Homo sapiens: one gene and its partners. The protein of the gene in region 2 interacts with the protein of the main gene of each other region in a biochemical or structural test. Each region holds a gene or a part of one and is shown on either strand. Other genes may lie near its edges.

Region 1 (7,947 bases), on a different chromosome or scaffold from region 2:
ATCACCCTTATAATTTGTTTTCCCCCGCCTGGAGGCGCCTATTACGGGGAAACTCTCGTGGGTTTCCTGCTGCCAGGCTGTTTGCGGAGCTTTCCCTTGTTTGCTTTGAGATGTTTTTGGTTTTAAAAAACAATAAGTGAGGTCAGGCTTGGTGGCCCTCGTCTGTAATCCCAGCACTTTGGGAGGCCGAGGCGGGCGGATCACTTGAGGTCAGGAGTTCGAGACCAGTCTGGCCAACATGGTGAAACCCCATCTCTACTAAAAAAAAAAAAAAAAAAAAAATTAGCCGGGCATGATGGCGCGGCTTGCAGTGAGCGAGGTTGCAGTGAGCTGAGATCGCACCACTGCACTCCAGTCTGGGAAATGAGTGAAACTCTGTCTCAAAAAAAAAATAGTAATAAAAATAGTGGGGAGAGTGCCTGTGAGTAGCATTTGTGGCGTTGCTTGGCTTTATTGCTAGAACTTTCTCTTGGTGTTCTACATGTTTTGGTCTGTGAGACCCCTCTGGGGGTGGTGTCCCAGCTGTCTTCCAAATGTTTCCCCCTTTTCCTCGCTGTCTTTCTCCTGGATGGTTTAGTCCCCTCTGTGTTTCTTGTCATCTCCTTCCTGCCTCCCCCCGGGGTCAGACTTATAAGGCCAGAGAGGTGGGCACTGGCCTGAGCCAGAGGAAGGAATTGAACTTTGGGATGACAGGGAGCTTTAGGAGAGTTTCAGCCTGGGAAAGACAGGGCAAGCTGGTGTGTGGGACAGACACAGCGCAAGCCGGCTTGTGCCTGTGGAGGCTGCAAGGAAGCCCTGGGCCCAGCCTGGGGCACGGGGAAAGCCCCCTACAGCTGGCTTCTAACTTGGGTCTCAAGAATCGATCAGGCGCACAGCTGGGGCAAAGGCTGGAGGTGGGGCTGGCTGAAGGCTTCAGGACTCTGCTGGGCCAGTGTCAAGGTGACAGCAGGCTCTGGGAAGGAAGGGTCCTGAGGGTGGGCAGCGGGAAAGGACATGAGGACCAGCGTGTGGGGGTCCTGAGGGGTGAGCAGAGGGTTTGGACATGGCCCCGTGGGCTTCCAGCAGGGGATTTGGGGCTGAATATTGGGACGTCCCCTCTGGGGTGTGTGGGGACTGCCTGTCCTTGCAGGCCCCGGCCTCAGTTTTCCCACCTATCCCCCACTCCATTGCAGGAAGGTGCTCGGGTCTTCGGGGCACTGGGTCCCATCGGTCCCTCCTCACCTGGGCTCACCCTCGGGGGTCTGGCCGTGAGCGAGCACCGGCTCAGCAACAAGCTGCTGGCTTGGAGCGGCGTCCTCGAGTGGCAGGAGGTGAGTCTCTGTGGGGCTGCGGCTGGCCTCCAGGGTCTTGTCTTGTCCCTGCGGGGACAGGCCAGGGCATCTAGGCTGTGCACAGTGACGCCCCTCCTGCCCCCACAGAAGCGCAGACCCTACTCTGACTCCACTGCAAAGCTGAAGCGGACCCTGCCCTGCCAAGCCTACGTGAACCAAGGCGAGAACCTGTGAGTGCCGGGGCGTGGCAGCCAGGGCGGTGGCAGGGGCAGTGGCTGTGGCCGTGGGGATCAGGGCAGCCCTTTCTGACCAGCTCCTTCCCATAGGGAGACCGACCAGTGGCCGCAGAAGCTGATCATGCAGCTGATCCCTCAGCAGCTGCTGGTGAGACCCGCCCCTCCCACCCCATCCACTCTGAGCACCCCCATGCCTGGCTGACCCAGCTGTCTGTCCTGTCGCCCCCAGACCACCCTGGGCCCCCTGTTCCGGAACTCCCAGTTGGCACAGTTCCACTTCACCAACAGAGACTGCGACTCGCTCAAGGGGCTCTGCCGCATCATGGGCAACGGCTTCGTGAGTGGGGCGGGCTCCCTTGTAGCACTGTGGTGACAAGTACAGCTGGAGGCAGCGCTCTGCTCACACAGTCCAGGCGGGGGTCGGGGGGTCTCCCCTGGGGCCGAGGGTAGCCCTCGTGGCCTCTCGGACCCCATCTGGAAATGACTGACTCCAGGCACCCTCCGTAGAGCACAGGGTGAAGGAACTCAGCCTGAGAGGCCTCCAGTTTCTGCATCTGTGCCCAGCTTCGAGGTGGCCCTGGGGGCGTGAGTGCAGGGAGGGACTGGGGCCAGCCCTGTTGGGGCCCAGGAGCCTGTCGGGGACACATAGCGTATGGCAGGGACCTGGTAAATGGGTGTGCTAGGCACAAGAGCCAGCCAGGAGGGAGTGGCACGTTGGGGCTTGGTATTCTGGTCTGTAAAATGGGCTAACCTCCCCGAGTGGCCTGAGCTGGCCGTGAGGGAGCAGAGCTGAGGGTGCTGAAGCAGGCGCGGTGAGTAGGTCCTCAGGCCTGGCTCCAAGGGGACCCAGGTATCCAGCCAGTGGCTGTGCAGGGACTGAGTGGGGCAGGCGCGGCCATGACCTGGACCCGGGGGGCTGCCAAGGGATCTGAGAGCGGCTTCCGCAGCACTCCAGGGTTGGGCTGGTTGAGGGGTAGAGATGACATTTTCTGAGGTAGGGAGGACAGGGGAGCCGTGCTTCCTAGGGCCACCGGGAGGCTGGAGGGAGGGAATTTGTGTAAAGCGCTTGAGATGGTGACTTTAGTACCTAGTGAGTGCTGGGTGAACCCAGCTGGTGAGGCTGTTCAGGTGACTGAGATTCTGGCGCAGGGCAGGTCAGAAAGGGGGCTTGGGCTGTGAAAGATGGCAGGTGCTGGAGAGGAGGCAGGGGTGGGGTGGGAGCGAGTTGTCTGCCCAGAGGACCTGGCTCTGGGACATTCCCAGTCCCTGTTCCCTGTTGGGACAGTCTGCCTCTACCCGTCCCAGCTGCCGTTGAGCGCCCTGGGTTCCGCTAGGGCCTCCCTTCTCCCTCAGGAGACCAGGGGCAGACCAGGGCTTGTGCCTGGCATGAGGTCTCTTAAGTGACCCGTTCCCCCTTCACCCAGCACCGTTTGTTGAGGGCCTGCCATATCTGGGCCCCGAGTACCCAGTCTGTAGGGAAAGTGGACATCCATACTCACCCCCCAGGCATGGCCCTGGGAGGCTGACTGTGCATGGCTCCAGGGAGGCCAGGGACAGGGCCCTGAGCGGGTGATCCCTGGGCTGGACACCAAGGTTGAGAAGTTAGGCCGGCAGCGTGGAGGGGACAGCACTGTGGGGGTGGCCCGGTGTGGGGAGGGGACATGGGGTTTTGGGACGGTCACACCACTTCATCTAGACACCACAGCCAGGCACATCTGTCAGGCTTAGTTCTCCCATGCGCCATCCTCAAGAGGCACCAGCACTTTATCTGTTGAGCCTTTATGTGGCACCAACTGTGTGCACTATTACCCGGTTTTACAGATGATGGAGGCCCAGAAGCAGGAGGTGGCTGGTGTTAGGTCACACAGCTAGGAGGCAGCAGAACGGTGGGGCGCTGCCTGTGCTCTTAACCCCCAGGCCAAGTCACCCCATCAGGCAGTCAGGAGGGCTGGCGGCAGGGGGTGATGTGGGTGGGAGGTAGTGCCTTCTTGGCATTCTCACCGCAGCCTGGGTGCCGGGTGCCACTCTGACCTCAGCCATGGCAGGGTCGGGGGATGCCGATGGGCGCTGCACGGGCTCTCAGAGGCCCCTCACCTATGGCCATGGCCTTGACTGTGGGGGCCTCTGTCCACCGATGATCTCCCTTCATCCCCTACAGGTGGGGCGGTCCAGGGTGGTGGGGGCACAGTGGCCCCGGGCAGTGACCACAGGGTCCTGACCCGCGGCCCCCGCAGGCGGGCTGCATGCTGTTCCCCCACATCTCCCCCTGTGAGGTGCGCGTGCTCATGCTCCTGTACTCGTCCAAGAAGAAGATCTTCATGGGCCTCATCCCCTACGACCAGAGCGGCTTCGTCAGTGCCATCCGGCAGGTCATCACCACCCGCAAGCAGGTGTGCCAGCCAAGCACAGCCCCTCTGGGGACAGAGGGGGATTAGACCCCACTGCCCTGGTTGGGCAGCCAGACTTGGTGTGGGCGGAGTGTGATGCGATGGCTGGAGCAAGGAGCTGCAGGGGAGCCCGGAGGATGCCGGGCGGGTTCCCACCAGGGCTCCATGGAAAAGCGGCCACTGGGCGGCTCTGCAGGGCTGGAGGGTGGGTCTTGGCGCGGCGGCAGGGAAGCCAGCGGAGCGGGGAGCTGGGCAGGGGTTGGGATCGTCCTGCGGCTGGAAGGCCCTGCCTGGTAACCACGTGTCCTGGTCATGCCTTGCCAGTTGAGGCAGACTCTGCAGGTCCTGTGCACCAGGTGAGGGCCGGGACCTGTCTCAGGCCACTGGGGAGCCATGGGGGGCTGTGAGCAGATGAGGGGCAGGGCCTGTTCCCCTGGGACTAGAGAATGGACCCAGCTGGGGCTAACAGGCCAAGGCTCGGAGGGAGGGATGGCAGGCCCCAGGACAGACAGACAGGTTTCCCAGGAGCCTGGGCCCCTCTTCCCACCCCGTTCCCTTCCAACAGGCAGTGGGACCTGGTGGTGTCAACTCAGGCCCAGTCCAGATCGTCAACAACAAGTTTCTGGCATGGAGTGGTGTCATGGAGTGGCAGGAGGTGAGCACTCGGCAGCCCAGGGACTTGGGACCCCCAGATCCTCACGGACTGTGGCTGGGAGGGGACACTGGCATTGGGGGTCTCCAGCCCTGAGGGCTCCTCTTTGCCTCTCCCCCAAAAGCCCAGGCCTGAGCCCAACAGTCGGTCCAAGAGGTGGCTGCCATCCCACGTCTACGTGAACCAGGGGGAGATCCTGTGAGTGCTGGGCTGGGGGGTGGAGGCAGCATCCAGGGGAGCTGGGGCTTCCTGACCCTCGTCCCTTTGTGCCCCACAGGAGGACCGAGCAGTGGCCAAGGAAGCTGTACATGCAGCTCATCCCGCAGCAGCTGCTGGTGAGGGGCTGGGGCCGGGTGCTGGAGCCTGCACGCAGTAGCTCTTCCAGAGGGCGGGGCTGGGGGCAAGAGCGCCTCCCCAGGTGGCCTGAGCTGGCTGTGAGGGAGCGGAGCTGAGGGTGCTGAAGCAGGTGTGGTGGGTAGCTCCTCAGGCTTGGCTTCAAGGGGTCCCAGGCAGCCAGCTGGTGGCTGTGCAGGGACTGAGCGGGGCAGGGGCAGCCACGACCTGCACCTGGGGGGCTGCCAAGGGATCTGAGAGCGGCTTCCACAGCACTCCAGGGTTGGGCTGGTTGAGCGGTGGAGATGACGTTTCCTGAGGTAGGGAGGACAGGGGAGTCTCAGTTTGGTCCTGGGCCCGGGGGACTCAGCGGGCTGGGAGCCGGGAGGCCGTGGTGGGAGAAGCCAGAGCTGGGGGTCCCCTCGCTTCCCCGCAGACCACCCTAGTGCCGCTGTTCCGGAACTCGCGCCTGGTCCAGTTCCACTTCACCAAGGACCTGGAGACACTGAAGAGCCTGTGCCGGATCATGGACAATGGCTTCGTGAGTGGTGCCAGCAGACGCAGGGGAGGGGCCGGCCAGGGCAGAGCGAGCCCGGACCGCTCACGGGGGCGGACATGGGAGAGGAACAGAGCACCATGTCCCAGACCAGCTGGGGAGAGAGGGTGGCTAGTGTGGGCGTGACTTCTGGGGGCTCTGTGCTGTCCCCACGGCACTGGATGGGGCACTGACCCTGGTTCTGCGGGGGCCTGCTCCTCCTCTGCCACATCAGGGCTGACTCAGCACCAACTCCGCGCTCTCCACTCCTCAGGGACAGGCGCCCTTGTCACTCCTGGTTTCCCGGGAGCTTGTGCCACATCCCAAAGGCCCATTGCTGGGCAGGGAGGGCTGTCTGCCCCCAGCAAGGTCCCAGAATATTTGGCGATTGTCTTATCTGGGGGAGGCTCAGCTGACTCCTCTTCTCTCTCTCGGGCTCAGTTTCTCCATCTGTGAGGTGGAGAAGGTTGGACTTTGGTGTTTCTGAGCCCTCCCCCCGATGTCCACCTTCCAGCTGGGCCATACTTGGGTAATATCCCGAAACTACCTTAAAATTACCTTCGACTCAGTCTGAGTAAACTGTCCACGAAGCTGTTCGTGGGTGGGGGGGGCCTGGGTGTAGGTGCTTTTACATGAAAGCAATTTCAAGCATTCCCTCAGGGGCCGGGTGCGGTGGCTCACGCCTGCAATCCCAGCACTTTGGGAGGCCGAGGCGGGTGGATCACCTGAGGTCAGGAGTTTGAGACCAGCCTGGCCAACATGGTGAAACCCCGTCTCTACTAAAAATACAAAAATTAGCCAGGCATGATGGCCACTCAGGAGGCTGAGTCACAAGAATGGCTTGAACCCGGGAGGCAGAGGTTGCAGTGAGCTGAGATCATGCCATTGTACTCCAGCCTGGGCGACAAGAGCGAAACTCAGTCTCAAAAAAAAAAAAAAAGTTTCCTCAAGGAAACCCAGAAAGGCTCCATGTACCTCAGCCCTTGCTTGTGCTGGGCCGGCCGCTGCAGATCCCTCGGGCTCCTGAGTTGAAGCCATGGCCGGTTGGCTCAGGTGGCTGTGGTGAGGTGGCCCCAGACACAGCCTGGCCTGCCCAGGAGCTCTGAAATGCAGGTTCTTGGGCCCTTCCCGACAGAGCCTGTTGGCCTTTGGCCCACCCATTGCTCTTGGCCACCGTGTCATCCCAATAAGGGGGCCCACCTCCAGGGTGGGTGGGGGGTGTGAGGACAGAGCAGTTAGGCTGTGCCTGGCTCATGGAGCCCACGGCATGATGCCGTGGTTGGAGGGATGCTGGTCCCTGTGGTGCTGTCTGGTGACACCACGCCCTGTGCCTGCCAGGCCGGCTGCGTGCACTTTTCCTACAAAGCATCGTGTGAGATCCGCGTGCTTATGCTCCTGTACTCTTCAGAGAAGAAAATCTTCATTGGCCTCATCCCCCATGACCAGGGCAACTTTGTCAACGGCATCCGGCGTGTCATTGCCAACCAGCAGCAGGTCCTGCAGCGGAACCTGGAGCAGGAGCAACAGCAACGAGGGGTGAGGTGGCCGGCCTCCAGGGCTGCTCAGTCTCCCTCCACCCCCGCTGCCTGCTCACCACTGGCCTCTGATTTCTCGCCGTAGATGGGGGGGTAGTGGTTACCCCGGGCTGGGCCCCTCCAGGAGTCACAGATGAGGCCCCCGCAGAGACTGGTGAGTGGTGACCCTGTCATGTACAGGAGGGACCCTGGGGCATGTGGGGGGGGTGGGGTTGGGAAAGAAGCAGGGCGACCTTGGCCTTGGGGAGAGCAGAGCAGAGGGAGAGGCAGCAGTCCCAGCGGTCCTAGGCTGTCGGGAAACTGCAGCCCAGCCTCAGGGCCATGGGAGGTGGTATCCAGGCCTGGGTGGGGCCAGGCCTCTGCTCACAGGGATGTGGGGTCAGTGCTTGGGAGCCTGTGGCCAGCAGCCCCCACTGCACCCCTGCCCCCAGGTGACACGCTTCTGAGCAGGGGCCCCTGGGGACTTCAACTGCCCAGCAACATGGAGGATGGTGTCCTGAGGCCTCCAAGGACGGTCCCCACCCCTCTACGTTTCCCCAATAAAGCCTTTTAAAAACCTGCCTGCCTTCTCTGCTCACTGCCCGATGCCTTGCAGCCCCCTAGCTCTAAGGTGGCCCAGCAGGCTGGACAGCCCGGGAACTCACTGGGTCTGGCTCTCGGCTGTCCACACCCTCTTCCCCCCCGAATCTCCAGACCCGCAGGCCTTGGGTTCAAGTTCAGTGTCACAGAACCTGAGCTGGATTTTGTCCTCAGGGGTCACACCTGGCCTTGAGCCAGCCCCTCGGTTGAGGCTCGTGGGCTCACCAGCTGGCTCTCGGGGGGCCACACAGCGCCCTCCCTGTGTGTTCCCCGGCTAATGTCTAAAGTGCTCATGCCAGGTCCCAGCTGGACTCCCCTCGGTAGGGCCCCACCTTTTGTTACCTGAAAATGTCCTTAAAGCCTCCTCCATGTAAGAAACTGGCAGGCCTGGAGCCCCTCCCCCGTGGGGACCACCCTCC
Region 2 (8,044 bases):
TGGAGGTGTGTGCACGGCGCGGGGGACCCTGCTGTGCCTGCAGTCAGTCCTTCCCAGCCTGCCAACCTCGAGCAGCCGCCTTTCAGCTCAGGGCCACCCCCTACACTGTTTCCCATGGGCCAAGCTGGGTTTGGTGAGCTGTCCTCTGAGGATGTGGGGGATGAGGGGCTGAGAGGTGGGAGCGGGGAGCTGAGGCACCCTCAGGCCAGGGAGCGAAAGGAAAGGCAGGTGAGGCTTATAGCCCTCCCTGCCCTGCTAAGCCCCATGAGCCTCCCAGTAGGGACCCCGTAGATTAGAGCTAAATGGGTGCCGGGGATGGGGGCGGTGGAGGAGAGCTGGGAGGTCCCCTGGACTCCGTGCGAGGGGATAGCTCTTGCTGATGACTGTCCCAACACCAGTGCCCCTTCTCCCCACCTACACACATGTTTGGGGGCAGGGGCAGAGGAGCCAGGGAAGGGGACTCAGGCTGGCAGGGGCTGTGCCATGGTCAGTGCAGAGAAGGGACAGTCCAGGGTACACACCCCTGGGAGAGCCACAGGAAAGCCCTGTGTTCTGCACTCCCAGGACACACCTTCCCCTTGTCTACCCCCAAGTATGTCTCAGGTTTCACCCAAACACAAATGTGTTGAGGAAGGAACATGGAGGCAATTAGCCCAGCCTCACCAACTCTCTGCCTGGCAGGTAACACCAACATGGGATGAACTTGAACTCTTCCATCCTCTCAGCCTCAGGAGGTCGATCTTAACCAAACACCACTCCACAGATGAGGAAGCTGAGGCACATTTAAGTTGCAGTGCAGGGCAGAGCCAGGATGCGAACCAGCCCCTGGGCTGGCACTTCCCTGCTGTGCAGCACTACCCACAAGGCCACTGTCCCCCTCAGCCTGTCCTTGCTTGTCCTTAACCTAGTACCTGAGGCTGACACTCCTGTCGATGACAGTCTTGGTGGCCTGAGGCATGGGCATGTCCCAAGTGTCCTTCCTACTACACTGTCCCCAGTGGGAACCTCCCAGGCTCTGCTGCCCCCAGCAATTGCCCAGGTGCACTGTCGCTGTTGACTGTGTCTCCTGCTCCAGAAACACAAGCCCACTCTCTCTTGGCCAGGCCAGTGCTCTGGGTGTGATGGGGATTGCCGTGGCAACCAAAGCTTCAGGGACAAGGATGGTGACACAGAGAGACAGAAACAGAGAGAAGGTGCAAAAAGCAGAAATGCCAGGACAAGGACCAACTCTTGGCAGGGATCAAGTGAGGGACCCCATTTGCCTTCAGCTGTGTGGGCCTCAGGGACAGAGGGAGGCCTTTTCCAGGTTGCTTGGCCGAGTCTTGGACTTCAGGAGTGGAGGAGTCTGGAGGCCTCCCAGGGTTGATGGCCTTTGGAGGAGGCAGAGGTGGCAGGGGTCAAGTTGCTTCTCCTCTGGATAAATCCTCCAGGAGGCCCACAGAAGGAACAGCCCTGGGTGGATGCTGTGGGTGGGAGTCTGGAAGCTGCCTGGCACCACCCTAGCCCATCTCCTTGGCTGCAAACCTGGAGGAGGAGGAAAGTATCACCTCTAGGCAGCTGCTATGAGTCTAGCCCTGCTCAGGGATTTACGCCCCATGTCAGGAGAGGCCATTGAAGCCTCTTTCAAGGCTGACAGCCTGTGACTTGGCACATGACCAGGCTGTAACCCTGGGCAATGTGTCTAGCCTGGCCGAGGCTCTGTATATATCATCTCATTTAACTCTTACCACCTCATTCAACTCCTGACATGAGTCTGTCATCAGCCCTTTTCATAGGTGAGAACTCTGAAGCTGGGAGAGGCATGGTCACCTACTCAGGGTCATACAGTTGGCATGTGACACAGCCAAGGTTTGCTCTCAGGCTTCAGCAGGCCCTTCTTGTTGATGCAAGGCAGATTATGGGGACACAGATACCAGCTCATCTGGACCCTGCCCTGGCCCACCAGTGTGGCACCCAGAAGCAGCTCCAAGATGCAGGGTGGTTCTAGTCAAGCTTGGCCTGGATTCTCTGGACCTCATGCAAACCTATTCTCCCTGGAACCCTTGGACCTAAGGCCTGGAGGGAAGCCCACCTTCATCCCTTCTCTGCCCTCGCCACAGCATAGCTAGCACAGCCTTAGCCCCTCTGACCCTCTCTGAGTACATCGCACTTCCCCTTTCTCTAGAGGAGAAAGATTGGCTGAAGCCAGTGTATGCTTGCAGCCCCTGAGCTCACAAGTCTGCATATCCTGAGGATCAGGAAAGTGCTTCCTGTTGTCTAATGTAAATCTTGTTCCTGTAACACCAGTATATGTCAAAGCAGTGATTCTCAACAAGGGGTAATTTTGCCCTGCAGCAGACATTTGGCAATGTTTGGAGACATTTTTGTCTGTCACAAGTTAAAGCAGGGAGGTACTATTGGCATCCACTAGGCAGAGGCCAGGGATGCTGCTCAACATCCTTACAGTGCACAGGGCAGCCCCCACAGCAAAGAATCATCTGTCCCAAAGGTCAGTGGTGCTGAAATTGAGATCCCTGATGTAAACTATGGGCTTTGGAGCCAGACAGACCTCGGTCTGAATCTGCGTCTGCCACTGACTAGCTGTGTACTCTGGGGCAAGTCGCTTCTCCTTTCTCTGAGCCTCAGTTTGCTCATCACCAAAACTGGCACTAACAGCAGCCCTCACCTCTTGAGAACTGTTCAGACTGCCCACATCCAGCACCCAGCACACAGCCTGGTGCTGGGTAGCCCCTATCAGCGATAGCCATGATTATTCATTTCCTTCTTCCATGGTGAACCACACGGAGTGGGAACAAAGGTCTGGTGGCTGGACCTGGAGCTCCTCAAGGGTCAGTCCTCCCTCTGGCTGCAGTCCCTGGCACAGGGTGGGCCTATTGTTTATGTTGAGGGAGAGACTGGGTTGGCTTACTGTGGACCTGAAGGAGGAGCCAGAAGGAAACCCGATCCCAAGTGGGCAAAGGTCACTTGAGGCTCACCTTGTTTACCCTTTCCTCCAGTCCAACCCCAGGGAAGCCATGGGGCATGATGGGTGGGGTGGGATGGGATCAGGACACAGAACATGCTAATGAATATGGTCCTTCACTCAGGGAAGTGCCGTGCATTACAACTGGGCATCAGGGAGGAGGGACATTTGAATGGACACAACCAGGGCAGGTAGAGGTTTGGGGGTGGGGTGGGAAATGGCATTCAGGCCCAGAGAACAGCATGCTCAAGGCCTGGGTGTGAAGAGAAAGTCTTTCCCAAAGGATAGTCCTTGAACCCACCTGGTCTGGCCTTTTCTCCCCATCCATCTTCCGCAATCTCAACCAGGGTCCTCCCACCTGAACAACGTGGCAGCCCTTCTGTCCCCCATCCAGCCTCTCCTCTGCCCTGCTGTCCCTCTGCCCCATCTATCCCGCAGGAGCCCCCTTGAGCCTGTCATCCTGCCTGGTTGTAATAGCTTTCACCACCTTCTCATTGCTCTGTGAGAAGACCAAAGTCCAATGGCCTGTCTCTGTCACAAGCCCCTTTCTCAGCTCAGGCCACCTCAGGGATTGTCCCCCACTTCCATCCCTTGTGTCTCAGCTGGGAAGAGCTGTCTAGACTTTCTCTATCCCTTCTAGGTGGTTCCCCAGGACCTGGAACCCTCTTTTTTGTCTCCTGGGAAGTGACATTTCTTTGGATGAGTATAAGGCTAATGTCTTGGCTTTCTGAGCTCTGGGGACAGGGGAATGGACTCCCTAGAACCCCAACTGGTCCCTAGACTTTGAGCCTAGGGGACACTCGGTGAATAGATGAATGAGTGAATGAATGAATGAAGGAGTTATGGCTGACAACCAAGTTCCATGTCTGGAAAGGAGGCTCAGGCGCCTGCCAGGAGCAATAGAGAGGTCTCAAAGGTGGGGGCAGGAAAGCAGAAGACTGCCAATCGGGGTAGGGGCAACTGCCAGTCCGAGTAGGGGCAGTTCCCAGAACCGCCTGAGGAGCAGTGCAGCGCCCGACCAGCGAGAACCTCCGACCCTGGAGTCTAACCAGCTCAGTCTTTGGGGCAGAGCCGGGACAGCGGGCTTGGCGGCGGGCACCGCGCCCGGCCGCGTCCGAGCTCCAGCCAACAGGAAGAGCAGGAGTGGGGCCAGGAGAGGCGGGCCAGCTGGCCAGTGGGGAGTCCCGGGCGTGGGTGTGGGGAGCGGGGGAACCCCCGCCGGCCCCTCCCAGGCCCCAGCGGGCGGAGGGAGCCTCCCCACCGGGCCTCAGCGTCCTCCTCTGTAAAATGGGCCCCTTCTGAGGGCTGGCTGCGCGCTAATGGCGGGAGGATGCGAAGAGGGCCAGGCAGGGCAGAGGGACCGGGAGACTCGGTGTCCCGCGCAGGCAGAGGCGGAGGGACGCTGTCCCCGATTGCAGCTGGCGGGGCGAGGCCTGGCAGGGCGAGGCCTGGCGGGGGCGGGGCCTGGCGGGGGCGGGGCCGGCGGCACCTGGGTGAGGTCGCTCGGCCCCGCCCCCTCGCACTTCCGTGTGCCGCGGCGCCGGAGCCCGAGGCGGCTGTAGCCCACATCTCCCGAGCGACCCCCGGCGCCCGCCCGCCGCGCGGAGGCCCGGGCCACACCTCACTGGCCGCTTGGCCCATCCCAGTCAGCGCCGCGCCGAACCCCGTCCGCGCGCGCCGGGGAGCGGCGCCCCCGCCGCTGCCGCCGCGACCCTTGGCGCCTGCCCCTGCAACGGGAGGTAAGTGAGGGCCGGGTCCGGGCGCGGGATCGGGGCTACCCCGAGGGCGCGGCGCCCTTCCTTCCCCCTTCCCGCCCCAGTTCCCGTTTCCGAAACTGAGAAACTGAGCCGCGGTCAGCGAAAGTCCCGCCGCGCCGAGACCTGCCGGTGACTCCGTCCCCCTGTCCGTCTGTGTGTCCCTCCGCTAGACAGTGGGGGCTGAGGTCCTTCTGTCTGCCCGCTCCCGGCCCCTCCACCCGCCCGTGTGTCTCCCGCTCCTCCGAGGGGCCCGTCCGTCCCTCCCGACTCTCTCCCGGGCCCTGTGTCCGTCCGTCTGTCGCCACCCACTCTGTGTTCTCCCCCTGCGCGCCTCTCCGAGACCCGATCCTTCTGTCCCTCGCCACCCGATCCGTCCGTCCCTTGCCCTCCGCGTGCTCCATCGCCCCACCCCCACCCACACCCCTACCCCCGCCCGCCGCCCCCTCGATCCCGTCCTCCCGGAGCCGCGCCCCCGGCCCACGCTCGCCGCCCCCTGCCAGTCCAGCCGCCTCTCCGCTCTACCGCGGGGCCCAGGCCAGGCCGCCCGCCGGGCCTCGCCTCCCGCCCCTGGGTCCCTGGAGGCCCGACCCGCGCGGCGCCTCCTCCTCGCTGTCTCTTCTTTCGGTCTCAAGAGTCTTTCTCGGTCCCTTCATCCGTCTCTGGGCTGGGCGTGGCTCCAGTCTCCACCATCCCCCTTCCCACCCCACCCCTCCGCCCCTCTGAGACCCCTCCCAGGGTGGCCCCTGCCCGATACGGTCTGTACTCGCCCCCAACCCAGATGCCACTCCCGTTGTGGGGGCTCCACCAGATGAGGGGAGGAGGTCGGGGGGGGGGGTCCTCCTGGCTGGTGGTGGAGCGGCAGAAGGAGAGCACCATCGGAACTGCTCCCACTTCCCCAGTTCCCTCTCTCTTGGGGCAGGGGAGAGCCCCACCGAGCCCCGCCTTAAACCTGGTCAGAAGGATCTGCTGTGAGTGGGCGGGGGGTCCCCTTCTCTGACGCCTACCCTGTATGCGTGGAAGCTGTCTCCTTGTGCTAAGTCACTGGTATCTGGGTGTGTGGGTATGTTGTGTGTCTGTGTCAGCTTCTGTGCTGTCTGTCACTGTGGGACTTGCCTGTGCATGTGTGTCCTTTTTCGCATGTGTGACTTGCTTGTGTGTATGTGTGTATGTCTGTTTGTGTCCTGAGGCTCTGTGTGTGTCTTTTGCAACTGTGTGTACCATTCTTGGTGTGTTTGTTGTCACCAGACTCGTGTGTGTGTGTGTGTGTGTGTGTGTCCTTGCCTGCTAGTGTGTGTGTCCCTGTGTGTCTGGAGGTTTCGGTGTTGCACACTGGGTATATCATGGTGACCAACTGGCCATGAGTACGTTAGATCTGTTAATTGTGGAAGCCCCTGGTGTTGGGTGCCTACCCACCAGTCTCATGTGTGAGTGTATCTGTATAAGTGTGTGTATGTGTGTGTACTCACGTGTGGCTCTCCCTCTGCCACTGAGTTTCTGTGACCAGGCCCACCTGGTCACTAAGGGAGGGGACTGATCCCTGGGGTTTCCTCGTTCCTGCTGTGGAGTGAGCTGGGGCTTGGTGAGCAGGCCAGCAGAGGGAGGCTGTATGGTGCATGTGTGATATGTGTGGTTGTGTGTGTGCGTGTGTGTGTGACAGAGAGGTGTGGTGGTGTCTGGGCAGCTGTACCTGGCTGATGGGTGGTGTGAGGGCTATGCGATGGGACAGTGCTGGGGTAAGCCTGGGAGTGTGTGGCCACGGTAGGAGTGTGTGACTGGTGGGACACAGTCTATGAAACTGCCGGTGTATGCTTGGGGAGTGACTGTGATTGTGGGGAACCGAGAGTGCCTGGGCGTGGGTGTTAGCGGCAGGAGGGGGTGTGACAAGGTGTGTGGTGACAGTGCTGGGAGGGAAGGTGAGAGCCCAGTGTGGGGGTGTGTGTGTGAGTGTGTGGGAGACCATGAGGATGTGGGTGTGCACATGGAGAGGGCTAGAGGGCAAGTCTTGGGGTTTGTAGTGTTGTGACCAAGACCTCGGGCTCTGTACCCAAGAATTATTTGGGCTCCAATACTTGCTTGTGCCTGTTAAGAGCAAGAGACCCAAGCTAGGCCTCTCAAGGCTGAGTGTCCTTATCTGCAGAATGGAGAGAGTGAGGACAAAAGTTCCTGTGTTAAAGGTCCTTTAACACAATCTTGGCCCATAGTGAGAACACAGCACATGTGAAGTCTTTTGTTGTCACCACCCCCAGCTATACGGTTCCCATTCTCCTGGGAGCTGGGGCTAAAGAAAGCCCAGACAGTATCCAACCCAATTTCCTGCCTGTCTGTTGCCCCTTCCCATCTCCTTGACCAAGCAGCTTGAGGGAGGGGGGATGCCCAGACAGAGCCCCCAGTACCCAGCCCTGTTCAGCCTGCATGACAGCCCCTCCCTCACCAGACCTTAGTGTCAGTAGTAGCGATGGGGGAGACAGGGGTGGGGGATGATTCAGAGCTGTGACTGCAGGGCGCTGACACCATTTAGCTGGCACAGTTTAGATTAAAATTAGAAATAATTTAAAGTACAGACAAAAAGATAAAGCCAAGGATGCCTCTGCCCCCAGGGAATGGTGATGGGGGTCTCCAGCTGGGGGAGGGGTTCACATCTGGGGAGCAGAATCTTTCTTAGAGGCTTGAGCTGGCCTTCAGAGAAAATGCTTAGGCCTTTCAGCCAGGAGACACAGAGTACCTTGCTACCTTTGCCATTTCTTCCTCCCAGGATATCTCCAGGCCTCAGTTTTTTCAGCTGTGTAATGGGCACAATAGTAATGTGAGAATCACCTGAACTGTAAGGCACAAGAGATTAAAAAATGTCACTCTTCAGTCTGGGCACGGTGGCTCACACCTGTAATCCCAGCATTTTGGGAAGCCGAGGCAGGTGGATCACTTGGTCAGGAATTTGAGACCAGCCTGGCCAACATGGTGAAACCCTGTCTGTACCAAAACTACAAAAATTAGCTGGGTGTGGTGGCGCGCACCTGTAATCTCAGCTGCTCAGGAGGCTGAGGCACGAGAATCACTTGAGACCAGGAGGCAGAGGTTGCAGTGAGCCAAGATCGTGCCATTGCACTCCAGCCTGGGCGATAGAGTGAGACCCTGCCACATTAAAAAAAAAAAAAAGTCACTATTCATTTGGCATTCTCAACATGAGTCCAGCACAGGAGCTGGCACGCCACATCATTGGAACCTCAGAACCACCTGGGGAGAAGAGGCTAGTAGTTTCCCCATTAAAAAAACTGAGGCTCAGGGAAATTGCACCAGGACATAAAGTGGTGGTACTTTGTTGCACCCT
Region 3 (7,947 bases), on a different chromosome or scaffold from region 2:
CAGTAGGTGGTGGTAGAGAATAATTTGATCTGACATTTCTGCTTATAAATGCGGGGTGTCCCTTAGTGGGTGATCAGGGTGCTTATTTCACTTTTTTGTTAGTCTGATTGATTATGACAAAGTATACCTGGATTTTCCTAAGGACTCAATATCATAGTCTTTAAAAAATGTTGAGCTAGGGCCAGGCACGGTGGCTCATGCCTGTGATCCCAGCACTTTGGGAGGCCGATGCGGGCGGATCACAAGGTCAGGAGATCAAGACCATCCTGGCTAACACGGTGAAACCCTGTCTCCACTAAAAATACAAAAAATTAGCCGGGTGTAGTGGTGGGCGCCTGTAGTCCCAGCTACTCGAGAGGCTGAGGCAGGAGAATGGCATGAACCCGGGAGGTGGAGCTTGCAGTGAGCCGAGATTGCACCACTGCACTCCAGCCTGGGTGACACAGCAAGACTCTGTCTCAAAAAAAAAAAAAAAGTTGAGCTAATTTTAATTAGTTTTTTTTATAGATAATAAGTACTATGTAGAACAAGAACCATAATGTATATCGAGTTATTAACTAAAATATAGTACCATCCAAGAATTAACTTAAAATAACTGAAATAAGTTTTCAGCATTTTATTTGAGAGCAAGGCAGTTTATGATTGATATTGGTTTTCCTTTTTTTTTTTTTTTTTTTTGATGGAGTTTTGCTCTTATTGCCCAGTCTGGAGTGCAGTGGCATGATCTCGGCTCACCGCAACATCCACCTCCTGGGTTCAAGCAATTCTCCTGCCTCAGCCTCCAGAGTAGCTGGGATTACAGGCGCACACCACCACACCTGGCTAATTTTGTATTTTTTTTAGTAGAGATGGGGTTTCTGCATGTTGGTCAGGCTGGTCTCGAACTCCTGACCTCAAGTGATCTGCCTGCCTTAGCCTCCCAAAGTGCTGGGATTGCTGGGATTACAGGCGTGAGCCACTGCGCCCAGCCTGTTTTTATGTACTTTGTTGAGTGGGAACGAGATGTATAGATGATCCTCTTGAAAGGGGTATAATAGGCATGATGACTCACTCCTGTAATCCCAGCACTTTGGGAGGCCAAGGTGGGAGGATCAGTTGAGCCCAGGAGTAGTTTGAGACCAGCCTGGGCCATATAGTGAGACCCTCATCTCTACAAAAAATTTAAAAATTAGCCAGGTGTGGTGATGGACACCTGTAGTCCCAGCTATTCAGGAGGCTGAAGTGGGAGGATTGCTTGAGCCCAGGAGGTCAAGACTGCAGTAAGCTGTGATCCTGCCATTACACTGCAGCCTGGGTGACAGAGCGAGATGCTGTCTCAAAAAAGGAGTGGGAGTGGTGTATAATAATGTTTCCAGATTGTCCTTTTCTTTCCATTGGGCATAAATCATTTCCCTCTGTTTATCCTAACATTTTAAAATTTTGTATTTTTTCAACATTATCAGTGTCTATTCAGGTGTTGGAAAAGGTTTTTTTTTCCTCTTGACTCCTATTTCAGGAATGTCAGGAACTAAGCATGGTGGGAAATGTTCCTGCTGAATTTCAGAAGGTATATATGAAAAGTGCCAAAAAAATTGAGGGCTGGGTATGGTGGCTCACATCTATAACCCCAACACTTTGAGCAGTTCTCCTGCTTCAGCCTCCCAAGTAGCTGGAATCACAGGCATGCGCTACCATGCCTGGCTAATTTTTTTTATTTTTAGTAGAGACGGTTTCAACATGTTGGCCAGAACTCCTGGCCTCAAGTGATCTGCCCTCCTCAGCCTCCCAAAGTGCTGGGATTACAGGCACAGGCCACCGCGCCCAGCCTGAATATACATATTTTAGAAATAATAGTATTTAAATATTTTTAAATGTTAAGCATTCGTTTAATGTGTTGTAAAATACAATTTTCAATCTTTTTTTCTTAGGGAAAACAATTTAATTAGTATATGGAATAATGGAAAAGGTATTCCTGTTGTTGAACACAAAGTTGAAAAGATGTATGTCCCAGCTCTCATATTTGGACAGCTCCTAACTTCTAGTAACTATGATGATGATGAAAAGAAAGTGACAGGTAGAGTATTGAGGGGAAATAACATATTTGTTGCTAAAAATATATATATTTAAATGACTGTCTGTGGCATGAGGGTTAAAGATATGGAAATAAATCTCTATAATTGAATAGCTCTGCCAGTGATTAAGAAATAAAGCTGTCAATGAGATAGTAACAATAAAATAGTGTTTCATATTTATTTGCCCAGGTGGTCGAAATGGCTATGGAGCCAAATTGTGTAACATATTCAGTACCAAATTTACTGTGGAAACAGCCAGTAGAGAATACAAGAAAATGTTCAAACAGGCAAGTAAATAAGTGTCTTGTACCTTAATGATAAATGGTAGTAGTATAGCCATTTATAATGGCATTAATGATTGGTTTAATTTAACATAATTTATAAGCTATTGAAGTATGGAAAATTATAAGCATATATATTAGGTTATTAGGACTCATAAATTTATGTTATTTACTTCCAGTTTGTGAGATGACTTGAATTTTTCATGTTTCCTATTCTTTACTTCCATAGACATGGATGGATAATATGGGAAGAGCTGGTGAGATGGAACTCAAGCCCTTCAATGGAGAAGATTATACATGTATCACCTTTCAGCCTGATTTGTCTAAGTTTAAAATGCAAAGCCTGGACAAAGATATTGTTGCACTAATGGTCAGAAGAGCATATGATATTGCTGGATCCACCAAAGATGTCAAAGTCTTTCTTAATGGAAATAAACTGCCAGTGAGTATTTTCCTGGATGTTAAGGATAATAAGGGATTTTGTAATCATTGTCAAGTGCAAAATTGAATTTTTTCCCCTCCCATATGTTTTTGTTTGTTTGTTTGTTTGTTTGTTTGAGACAGAGTCTCACACTGTTGCCCGGGCTGGAGTGCAGTGGCACGATCTCGGCTCACCGCAACCTCCACCTCCCAGGTTCACGCAATTCTCCTGCCTCAGCCTCCCAAGTAGCTGGGATTACAGGTGCCTGCCACCACACCTGGCTAATTTTTTGTATTTTTAGTAGAGACAGGTTTCACTATGTTGGCCAGGCTGGTCTCGAACACCAGACCTCATGATCCACCCGTCTTGGCCTCCCAAAGTGCTGGGATTACAGGCATGAGCCACTGCACCTGGCCCAACCATATGTATTTTCTTACCACTTCTCACATATGTTCTTGAAAAGAGAATGGTATGCCACATTTTTTAATCAGCTCATTTTAAACTTACCGAAGGAATTTCTTTCTCAAAGAAACACCTAAAATAAATATTTCATGTCCTTTTTTTATTTTCCTTTTTCTTTCTTTTCTTGATAACCTCGCTGTGTCACCCAGGCTGGAGTACAGTGATGCAATCACGGCTCACTACAGCCTGGACCTCCCAGGCTCAAGCGATCATCCCACCTCAGCTTCTGGAGTAGCTGGAAATGCAGGCAGCACCACCATGCCCAGCTAATTTTTTTTTTTCTTTTTAATAGAGGTGGGGATCTCACTATGTTGCCCAGGGTGGTCTTGAACTCCTGGGCTCAAGTGATCCACCCACCTCGGCCTGTGTCCTTTAATGACCATTCCCTTATGCCTATCAGTGAACATCATTGCATTGGTTTTGGAAAGTCCTCATAGTCTATCATTGAACCTATTTTTTAATAACTTTCTTAATACTGTTACCTTTAATTCCTGTACAGGTAAAAGGATTTCGTAGTTATGTGGACATGTATTTGAAGGACAAGTTGGATGAAACTGGTAACTCCTTGAAAGTAATACATGAACAAGTAAACCACAGGTGGGAAGTGTGTTTAACTATGAGTGAAAAAGGCTTTCAGCAAATTAGCTTTGTCAACAGCATTGCTACATCCAAGGTAATTTTATTCTTAAATTATTAATCATGATTTATCTTTACATATATGTGTTCTTATTGTTTTTAATATATAAAGTGGACTTGAATATTGGGCTAGCTTAGTATAAAGGAGGTTAAATTAGTTTTTAATGTTTGATTATTATAATTTTGAGGATACTGAGTTTTACAGTTTGGTATTTTTCCTTATTAGGGTGGCAGACATGTTGATTATGTAGCTGATCAGATTGTGACTAAACTTGTTGATGTTGTGAAGAAGAAGAACAAGGGTGGTGTTGCAGTAAAAGCACATCAGGTATGTGCTTTTGGCAGTTTTCTTTTTCTAAAGTCAAGGAAGAAGAGAAAGGCTATAAATAAAGCATGAGTACATTTTTAGTGGCTTAATATCAACTTCTATTGCAGGTGAAAAATCACATGTGGATTTTTGTAAATGCCTTAATTGAAAACCCAACCTTTGACTCTCAGACAAAAGAAAACATGACTTTACAACCCAAGAGCTTTGGATCAACATGCCAATTGAGTGAAAAATTTATCAAAGCTGTGAGTACTTAGAGGAAAATAAAAATAGAAACACCTGACTTTATTTTCCATTGCACTTCTTAGCTCTGCAGAAACAATGATTCTTCTCATAGTGAGCTTCTCCAAGTCTTCCCAATCTGAAAAGGAAGTAAAAAAGGGCTTTACTTTAACTGATTTACCAAAGACTTAATGACCGTCTATATTTCAGTATTTCCCAATTACATTTTACCATTAAGCTTAGATCACTTTTGAATTAATCTAGCTGTTTAACAAACACCCTCACTTAAATGCCTAAGACTTGCTTTCAGTCAACACATCCAAAATTGAATTTGTTACCTCCATACTCACTGATTTGCCCATACAAGCAGCCCCCCACTCTCCAACAAAAAAACAACTTCCTATCTTAGTAAAAAGCCCCAACCAACCTCTAGGTTGTATAAACAAGAAAGCTGGGAGCCTTCCTTTATTTCCCCTCCTCTCTAATCCGGTCAATAAGAATCATCTCTTGGATGCTGCAGTAGCTTCTCACCATTATCTCTTTTTTGGTTTACTACAATAGGTTCTTAACCTTCATACTGGTTAAGTCCTTTCCTTGGAATGCTTTTGAGTGACTTTTGTGTTAAAACACCCATTTTTATCTTCACTCTCATTTGAAATCTTTCAATGACTTCCACTCAGGGAAAGTCCAAATTCCATAATTTGGCCAACAAGAAAGATCTGCTGTAATCTAATTACACCTACTTCTCCAACTCATCTCAGTGCCAGTTTTTCGTATATTGTCCTGTTGCTTTTAAATTACTGAAAAGCACAGTGCTCTTCCCCTCCTCAGAGTTTATTCACATGCTAATCCCTCTGCATGAAATACATCCTTTTCACCTGGCTACTTTAGGTCTTGTCCTTTCCTCAGGAAAGCCTTTACTTTCTACCCTTCCCCCCACCTAAGTTGGTTCCAATATAATATTGAACATACCTTATTAGCAAACTTTTTGCTTATCCATAACACTTATAACACTGTAACTTATTTTATTTCTGTCTTTTTTTTTAGGCAGAGTCTCGCTCTGTCGCCCAGGCTGGAATGCAGTGGCACGATCTCGGCTCACTGCAACCTCCGCCTCCTAGGTTTCAGTGATTCTCTTGCCTCAGCCTCCCGAGTAGCTGAGATTACAGGCATGCATCACCATGCCTGGCTAATTTTTTTGTTGTTGTATTTTCAGTAGAGACAGGGTTTCACCATGTTGGTCAGGCTGGTCTCAAACTCCTGACCTCAAATGATCCACCCATCTCGGCCTTCCAAAGTGTTGGGATTACAGCCATGAGCCACTGTGCCCAGTCTTTTTTTTTTTTTTTTTTGAGACAGAGTCTTGCTGTGTTGCCCAGGCTACAGTGCAGTGACGTAATCCTGGCTCATTGCAATCTCTGCCTCCCAGGTTCAAGCGATTCTCCTTGCCTCCTGAGTAGCTGGGATTCTCCAGCCTCCTGAGTAGCGGGGATTACAGACATGCACCATCACATCCAGCTAATTTTTGTATTTTTAATAGAGATGGGGTTTTACCATGTTGGCCAGGCTGGTCTTGAACTCCTGGCCTCACTTGATCCACCATCCTCGGCCTCCTAAAGTGCTGTGATTACAGGCGTAAGCCACTGCACCCAGCTATGTCTGTCTTCTATGTTGTGTCTTAAACTTGATGAGGACAAGTGTCTCAATTTGTTTTATTTGTGTCTAATTTTATTTATTTATTTTTAATTTTTTTTTTTGGAGACAGCTTCTCACTGTTTCCCAGGCTGGAGTGCCGTGGCTTGATCTCAGTTCACTGCAACCCGCGCCTCCCAGGTTAAAGCAATTCTCCTGCCTCAGCCTCCCAAGCAGCTAGGATTACAGCCATTTCACCACCACCATGCCTGGCTACCCTTTTTTTTTTTTTTTTTTTTTTTTTTGAGACGGAGTTTCACTTTTGTCACCCAGGCTGGAGTGCAATGGTGCGATCTTGGCTCGCTGCAACCTCTACCTCCTGGGTTCAAGCGATTCTCCTGCCTCAGCCTCCCGAGTAGCTGGAATTACAGGTGCCCACCACCACGCCAGCTAATTTTTGTATTTTTAGTAGAGCCGGGGTTTCGCCATGTTGGCCAGGCCGGTCTCAAACTCCTGACCTCAGGTGTTCTGCCCACCTTGGCCTCCTAAAGTGCTGGGATTATAGGCGTGAGCCACCGTGCCTGGTCTAATTTGTTTTAACCACTATATCTCCAACAAGTAGCTCAGTGCTAGCACAATATAATTATATAGTAAATATTTATTGAACGAATGAACCAAAAGGAGCAGCTCCCTCAGTGGTGATAACCTGACATGGGAAGATGTGCCACCCTCTATCCAGAAATTATTGTTCTACATCTTTTTAATTTTTGAATCATTTTTATTTGTATTAAGGCTCATTTGTATTCTAGATTTCTGATAGATCCCTTCTTCCCTAATATGATCCCTAATATGAATCTTCTCGTTTTCAGGCCATTGGCTGTGGTATTGTAGAAAGCATACTAAACTGGGTGAAGTTTAAGGCCCAAGTCCAGTTAAACAAGAAGTGTTCAGCTGTAAAACATAATAGAATCAAGGGAATTCCCAAACTCGATGATGCCAATGATGCAGGTATATATTTAATAATGTTTCCAAACTTTTAAGTCTTATAGTTGTTATTTTATTCATTAATGGCATACCACGGATATTTATTTTTCCCTTGACAGAATAACTATATTCAACAGAATAACTTGTTAAAAATCGGCCCGTTTCCTATTATGGAAGATTTAGGTCATTTCCATGTTATAAATAATATTGAGGTGATTATTTTGGAGTATAAAACAAGAATGTTTATATTATGATCTATTACCTAACAAATAATTTTGCTCATTATATAGTAAATTGTGTTTTATCACAAGGCTATAAACAGCATGTTCAAGTTAGTATATTTGAGGTTGAACTAAATGTGCTAATATTAATATGTATATTTTTATTTTAGGGGGCCGAAACTCCACTGAGTGTACGCTTATCCTGACTGAGGGAGATTCAGCCAAAACTTTGGCTGTTTCAGGCCTTGGTGTGGTTGGGAGAGACAAATATGGGGTTTTCCCTCTTAGAGGAAAAATACTCAATGTTCGAGAAGCTTCTCATAAGCAGGTAGAATATAAGACGATCTTCAGAATCTAAATCTAATTTATAATACAAGACTTTATGCTTATATTTAATTCCCTCATTAGGCATTTTAAAATATATTTTAGACAATTTGTGCTTATTTTGAGAAATTAGGTACATTGTAGCCTATTTTAACAGACCTTTCTGATGTAGTAAATTATAAGCTAATAGCTCAAAATACTGGAGCTCAAGAAAATCCAAGCAACATATACTGTTAAATTTCTTTGTTCTTTTCAAATTTATAAACGATGCTTTTTTTGGTATATGTCCATTTCAGATCATGGAAAATGCTGAGATTAACAATATCATCAAGATTGTGGGTCTTCAGTACAAGAAAAACTATGAAGATGAAGATTCATTGAAGAC
Region 4 (5,144 bases), on a different chromosome or scaffold from region 2:
GCCGGCCCCGGGCTCCACCGCGCCCGCAGCCCACGGAGTCACCACGGCCCCGGAAAGCAGTTCTGGCCCGGGCTCCACCGCGCCCCCAGCCCACGGTGTCACCTCGGCCCCGGACACCAGGCCGGCCCCGGGCTCCACCGCGCCCGCAGCCCACGGTGTCACCTCGGCCCCGGAGAGCAGGCCGGCCCCGGGCTCCACCGCGCCCGCAGCCCACGGTGTCACCTCGGCCCCGGAGAGCAGGCCGGCCCCGGGCTCCACCGCCCCCCCAGCCCACGGTGTCACCTCGGCCCCGGACACCAGGCCGGCCCCGGGCTCCACCGCCCCCCCAACCCACGGTGTCACCTCGGCCCCGGACACCAGTCCCGCCCCGGGCTCCACCGCCCCCCCAGCCCACGGTGTCACCTCGGCCCCGGACACAAGGCCCGCCCCGGGCTACACCGCGCCCGCAGCCCACGGTGTCACCTCGGCCCCGGACACCAGGCCGGCCCCGGGCTCCACCGCCCCCCAAGCCCACGGTGTCACCTCGGCCCCGGACACCAGGCCGGCCCCGGGCTCCACCGCCCCCCCAGCCCACGGTGTCACCTCGGCCCCGGACACCAGGCCGGCCCCGGGCTCCACCGCCCCCCCAGCCCACGGTGTCACCTCGGCCCCGGACACCAGGCCGGCCCCGGGCTCCACCGCCCCCCCAGCCCACGGTGTCACCTCGGCCCCGGAGAGCAGGCCGGCCCCGGGCTCCACCGCGAGAGCAGCCCACGGTGTCACCTCGGCCCCGGAGAGCAGGCCGGCCCCGGGCTCCACCGCCCCCCCAGCCCACGGTGTCACCTCGGCCCCGGACACCAGGCCGGCCCCGGGCTCCACCGCCCCCCCAGCCCACGGTGTCACCTCGGCCCCGGACACCAGGCCGGCCCCGGGCTCCACCGCCCCCCCAGCCCACGGTGTCACCTCGGCCCCGGACACCAGGCCGGCCCCGGGCTCCACCGCCCCCCCAGCCCACGGTGTCACCTCGGCCCCGGACACCAGGCCGGCCCCGGGCTCCACCGCCCCCCCAGCCCACGGTGTCACCTCGGCCCCGGACACCAGGCCGTCCCCGGGCTCCACCGCGCCCGCAGCCCACGGTGTATATTTAAAACAGAGAGCAGGCCGGCCCCGGGCTCCACCGCGCCCGCAGCCCAGCTCACAGTGTCACCTCGGCCCCGGACACCAGGCCGGCCTCGGGCTCCACCGACACTCCAGCACACGGTGTCACCTCGGCCCCGGACAACAGACCGGCTCCGGGCTCCACCGCCCCCCCAGCCCACGGTGTCACCTCGGCACCGGACACCAGGCCGGCCCCCGGGCTCCACCGCCCCCCCAGCCCACGGTGTCACCTCGGCCCCGGACACCAGGCCGGCCCCGGGCTCCACCGCCCCCCCAGTCCACGGTGTCACCTCGGCCCCGGACACCAGGCCGGCACCGGGCTCCACCGCCCCCCCAGCCCACGGTGTCACCTCGGCCCCGGACACCAGGCCGGCCCCGGGCTCCACCGCCCCCCCAGCCCACGGTGTCACCTCGGCCCCGGACACCAGGCCGGCCCCGGGCTCCACCGCACCCCCAGCCCACGGTGTCACCTCGGCCCCGGACACCAGGCGGGCCCCGGGCTCCACCCCGGCCCCGGGCTCCACCGCCCCCCCAGCCCACGGTGTCACCTCGGCCCCGGACACCAGGCCGGCCCCGGGCTCCACCGCCCCCCCAGCCCATGGTGTCACCTCGGCCCCGGACAACAGGCCCGCCTTGGGCTCCACCGCCCCTCCAGTCCACAATGTCACCTCGGCCTCAGGCTCTGCATCAGGCTCAGCTTCTACTCTGGTGCACAACGGCACCTCTGCCAGGGCTACCACAACCCCAGCCAGCAAGAGCACTCCATTCTCAATTCCCAGCCACCACTCTGATACTCCTACCACCCTTGCCAGCCATAGCACCAAGACTGATGCCAGTAGCACTCACCATAGCACGGTACCTCCTCTCACCTCCTCCAATCACAGCACTTCTCCCCAGTTGTCTACTGGGGTCTCTTTCTTTTTCCTGTCTTTTCACATTTCAAACCTCCAGTTTAATTCCTCTCTGGAAGATCCCAGCACCGACTACTACCAAGAGCTGCAGAGAGACATTTCTGAAATGGTGAGTATCGGCCTTTCCTTCCCCATGCTCCCCTGAAGCAGCCATCAGAACTGTCCACACCCTTTGCATCAAGCCTGAGTCCTTTCCCTCTCACCCCAGTTTTTGCAGATTTATAAACAAGGGGGTTTTCTGGGCCTCTCCAATATTAAGTTCAGGTACAGTTCTGGGTGTGGACCCAGTGTGGTGGTTGGAGGGTGGGTGGTGGTCATGACCGTAGGGAGGGACTGGTGCACTTAAGGTTGGGGGAAGAGTGCTGAGCCAGAGCTGGGACCCGTGGCTGAAGTGCCCATTTCCCTGTGACCAGGCCAGGATCTGTGGTGGTACAATTGACTCTGGCCTTCCGAGAAGGTACCATCAATGTCCACGACGTGGAGACACAGTTCAATCAGTATAAAACGGAAGCAGCCTCTCGATATAACCTGACGATCTCAGACGTCAGCGGTGAGGCTACTTCCCTGGCTGCAGCCCAGCACCATGCCGGGGCCCCTCTCCTTCCAGTGTCTGGGTCCCCGCTCTTTCCTTAGTGCTGGCAGCGGGAGGGGCGCCTCCTCTGGGAGACTGCCCTGACCACTGCTTTTCCTTTTAGTGAGTGATGTGCCATTTCCTTTCTCTGCCCAGTCTGGGGCTGGGGTGCCAGGCTGGGGCATCGCGCTGCTGGTGCTGGTCTGTGTTCTGGTTGCGCTGGCCATTGTCTATCTCATTGCCTTGGTGAGTGCAGTCCCTGGCCCTGATCAGAGCCCCCCGGTAGAAGGCACTCCATGGCCTGCCATAACCTCCTATCTCCCCAGGCTGTCTGTCAGTGCCGCCGAAAGAACTACGGGCAGCTGGACATCTTTCCAGCCCGGGATACCTACCATCCTATGAGCGAGTACCCCACCTACCACACCCATGGGCGCTATGTGCCCCCTAGCAGTACCGATCGTAGCCCCTATGAGAAGGTGAGATTGGGCCCCACAGGCCAGGGGAAGCAGAGGGTTTGGCTGGGCAAGGATTCTGAAGGGGGTACTTGGAAAACCCAAAGAGCTTGGAAGAGGTGAGAAGTGGCGTGAAGTGAGCAGGGGAGGGCCTGGCAAGGATGAGGGGCAGAGGTCAGAGGAGTTTTGGGGGACAGGCCTGGGAGGAGACTATGGAAGAAAGGGGCCCTCAAGAGGGAGTGGCCCCACTGCCAGAATTCCTAAAAGATCATTGGCCGTCCACATTCATGCTGGCTGGCGCTGGCTGAACTGGTGCCACCGTGGCAGTTTTGTTTTGTTTTGCTTTTTTGCACCCAGAGGCAAAATGGGTGGAGCACTATGCCCAGGGGAGCCCTTCCCGAGGAGTCCCAGGGGTGAGCCTCTGTGCCCCTAATCATCTCCTAGGAATGGAGGGTAGACCGAGAAAGGCTGGCATAGGGGGAGGTTTCCCAGGTAGAAGAAGAAGTGTCAGCAGACCAGGTGAGCGTGGGTGCCAGTGGGGTTCTTGGGAGCTTCAAGGAAGCAAGGAACGCTCCCTCCTTCCTCTCCTGGTCTTTCTCTATGGGACCTAGTAAATAATTACTGCAGCCACCTGAGGCTGGAAAACCACTCCAGGTGGGGGAGGAGAGAGTTTAGTTTTCTTGCTCCTATTTTCCTCCTCCTGGAGACCTCCCTCTCTCGGCTTTACAAAGACACAGATACACCCCGCCCCCCAAAACACACACACACACACACACACACCTCCTTAGGCTGGAACAGCAGAGAATGGAGGGACAAGGGGGCTGATTAGAGCCAAGAAGAGGGAGTGAAGGAGAGCAGAGGGAGGAGGGCAGCCCTGTTTACAGTCACCTGGCTGGTGGGGTGGCAGGTGCTCTCTCTGAATTAACCCTTTGAGAGCTGGCCAGGACTCTGGACTGATTACCCCAGCCTGGGGTGGCATCCAGGGGCTCTAGGAGGTACCTTTTGCTCCTCACCCTGGATCTCTTTTCCTTCCACCCAGGTTTCTGCAGGTAATGGTGGCAGCAGCCTCTCTTACACAAACCCAGCAGTGGCAGCCACTTCTGCCAACTTGTAGGGGCACGTCGCCCGCTGAGCTGAGTGGCCAGCCAGTGCCATTCCACTCCACTCAGGTTCTTCAGGGCCAGAGCCCCTGCACCCTGTTTGGGCTGGTGAGCTGGGAGTTCAGGTGGGCTGCTCACAGCCTCCTTCAGAGGCCCCACCAATTTCTCGGACACTTCTCAGTGTGTGGAAGCTCATGTGGGCCCCTGAGGGCTCATGCCTGGGAAGTGTTGTGGTGGGGGCTCCCAGGAGGACTGGCCCAGAGAGCCCTGAGATAGCGGGGATCCTGAACTGGACTGAATAAAACGTGGTCTCCCACTGCGCCAACTTCTGATCTTTCATCTGTGACCCGTGGGCAGCAGGGCGGTCAGAATGTGTGTGAGGGGGCTGGGGGAGGAGACAGGGAGGCCAGGAGGCAGTAAGGAGCGAGTTTGTTTGAGAAGCAGGAGATGTGAGGAGGAGGTGACATTGGGGAGTAGGGGTGGCCTGAGGAGCCACCTCTGGCTAACCCTGGCAGCACAAGAGGAAGGAGGAAACGAAACCCAGGCGGGCTTTGGAGGGCTAGCGTGACTGGGCTCCGTGACTGAGCTCTGTGTGCCAGTGGCTCTCCCCTCTCCTCGCCTGGCCCACGCCCTCCTTGCCCCCTGGCATGGTGCCCCCCAGGTGGCTCTATTCTTAGCTGTCCGGGTGTGAAGTAAATCCTTGGGCAGTGATAACAGCCCAGAGTCAACAGGGTTGAGATAAGCAGAGGCTGGGTCAGATCCGGGCGCTGGCACCAGGCCCAGCCCCCTCCCTGACCCCGGCTGCCCCACCAGCCTGCTGCCCCTGGGGTGGGCTCCACAACACCCTGGGAATGGGGAAGTGGTTCTGGTTCCCTGACCCCTTTGGGCCCAGGCACGTTGCCTGTCCCTCGACCGCATTCCCCCAGGGCCTGTGCTGCAGGCCTGGAAGCCCTGATTGGGGCCTGCCACCAGC

Evidence for each region.
Region 1: of the proteins of PRKCD (region 2) and PTOV1, one has a biochemical effect on the other in vitro, tested with the Homo sapiens proteins (one study listed by BioGRID).
Region 3: the proteins of PRKCD (region 2) and TOP2A form a complex in vitro, tested with the Homo sapiens proteins (one study listed by IntAct).
Region 4: the proteins of PRKCD (region 2) and MUC1 form a complex in vitro, tested with the Homo sapiens proteins (one study listed by BioGRID).

What each region holds. Positions count from the first base shown.
Region 1 is NC_000019.10:49,853,234-49,861,180, forward strand, and holds the end of PTOV1 (prostate tumor-overexpressed gene 1 protein), read left to right. Parts: intron 1-1,172; coding exon 1,173-1,310; intron 1,311-1,357; exon of another isoform or gene 1,358-1,418; coding exon 1,419-1,501; intron 1,502-1,597; coding exon 1,598-1,655; intron 1,656-1,736; coding exon 1,737-1,844; intron 1,845-3,231; exon of another isoform or gene 3,232-3,741; coding exon 3,742-3,897; intron 3,898-4,459; coding exon 4,460-4,549; intron 4,550-4,670; coding exon 4,671-4,744; intron 4,745-4,823; coding exon 4,824-4,881; intron 4,882-5,113; exon of another isoform or gene 5,114-5,194; intron 5,195-5,315; coding exon 5,316-5,420; intron 5,421-5,609; exon of another isoform or gene 5,610-5,855; coding exon of another isoform or gene 5,856-5,870; exon of another isoform or gene 5,871-5,943; intron 5,944-5,972; exon of another isoform or gene 5,973-6,056; intron 6,057-6,752; coding exon 6,753-6,950; intron 6,951-7,034; coding exon 7,035-7,046; coding exon of another isoform or gene 7,047-7,086; 3' UTR 7,087-7,509; downstream 7,510-7,947. UniProt on the Homo sapiens protein: May activate transcription. Required for nuclear translocation of FLOT1. Promotes cell proliferation.
Region 2 is NC_000003.12:53,156,728-53,164,771, forward strand, and holds the start of PRKCD (protein kinase C delta type), read left to right. Parts: upstream 1-4,481; 5' UTR 4,482-4,701; intron 4,702-4,779; exon of another isoform or gene 4,780-4,848; intron 4,849-5,754; exon of another isoform or gene 5,755-8,044.
Region 3 is NC_000017.11:40,407,586-40,415,532, reverse strand, and holds part of TOP2A (DNA topoisomerase 2-alpha), read left to right. Parts: intron 1-1,907; coding exon 1,908-2,053; intron 2,054-2,240; coding exon 2,241-2,338; intron 2,339-2,561; coding exon 2,562-2,774; intron 2,775-3,714; coding exon 3,715-3,888; intron 3,889-4,077; coding exon 4,078-4,179; intron 4,180-4,286; coding exon 4,287-4,424; intron 4,425-6,902; coding exon 6,903-7,041; intron 7,042-7,408; coding exon 7,409-7,566; intron 7,567-7,858; coding exon 7,859-7,947. UniProt on the Homo sapiens protein: Key decatenating enzyme that alters DNA topology by binding to two double-stranded DNA molecules, generating a double-stranded break in one of the strands, passing the intact strand through the broken strand, and religating the broken strand.
Region 4 is NC_000001.11:155,185,176-155,190,319, reverse strand, and holds the end of MUC1 (mucin-1 isoform 10 precursor), read left to right. Parts: intron 1-117; coding exon of another isoform or gene 118-1,080; intron 1,081-1,385; coding exon of another isoform or gene 1,386-1,703; coding exon 1,704-2,157; intron 2,158-2,256; coding exon 2,257-2,312; intron 2,313-2,461; coding exon 2,462-2,598; intron 2,599-2,743; coding exon 2,744-2,865; intron 2,866-2,945; coding exon 2,946-3,095; intron 3,096-4,110; coding exon 4,111-4,185; 3' UTR 4,186-4,496; downstream 4,497-5,144. UniProt on the Homo sapiens protein: The alpha subunit has cell adhesive properties. Can act both as an adhesion and an anti-adhesion protein. May provide a protective layer on epithelial cells against bacterial and enzyme attack.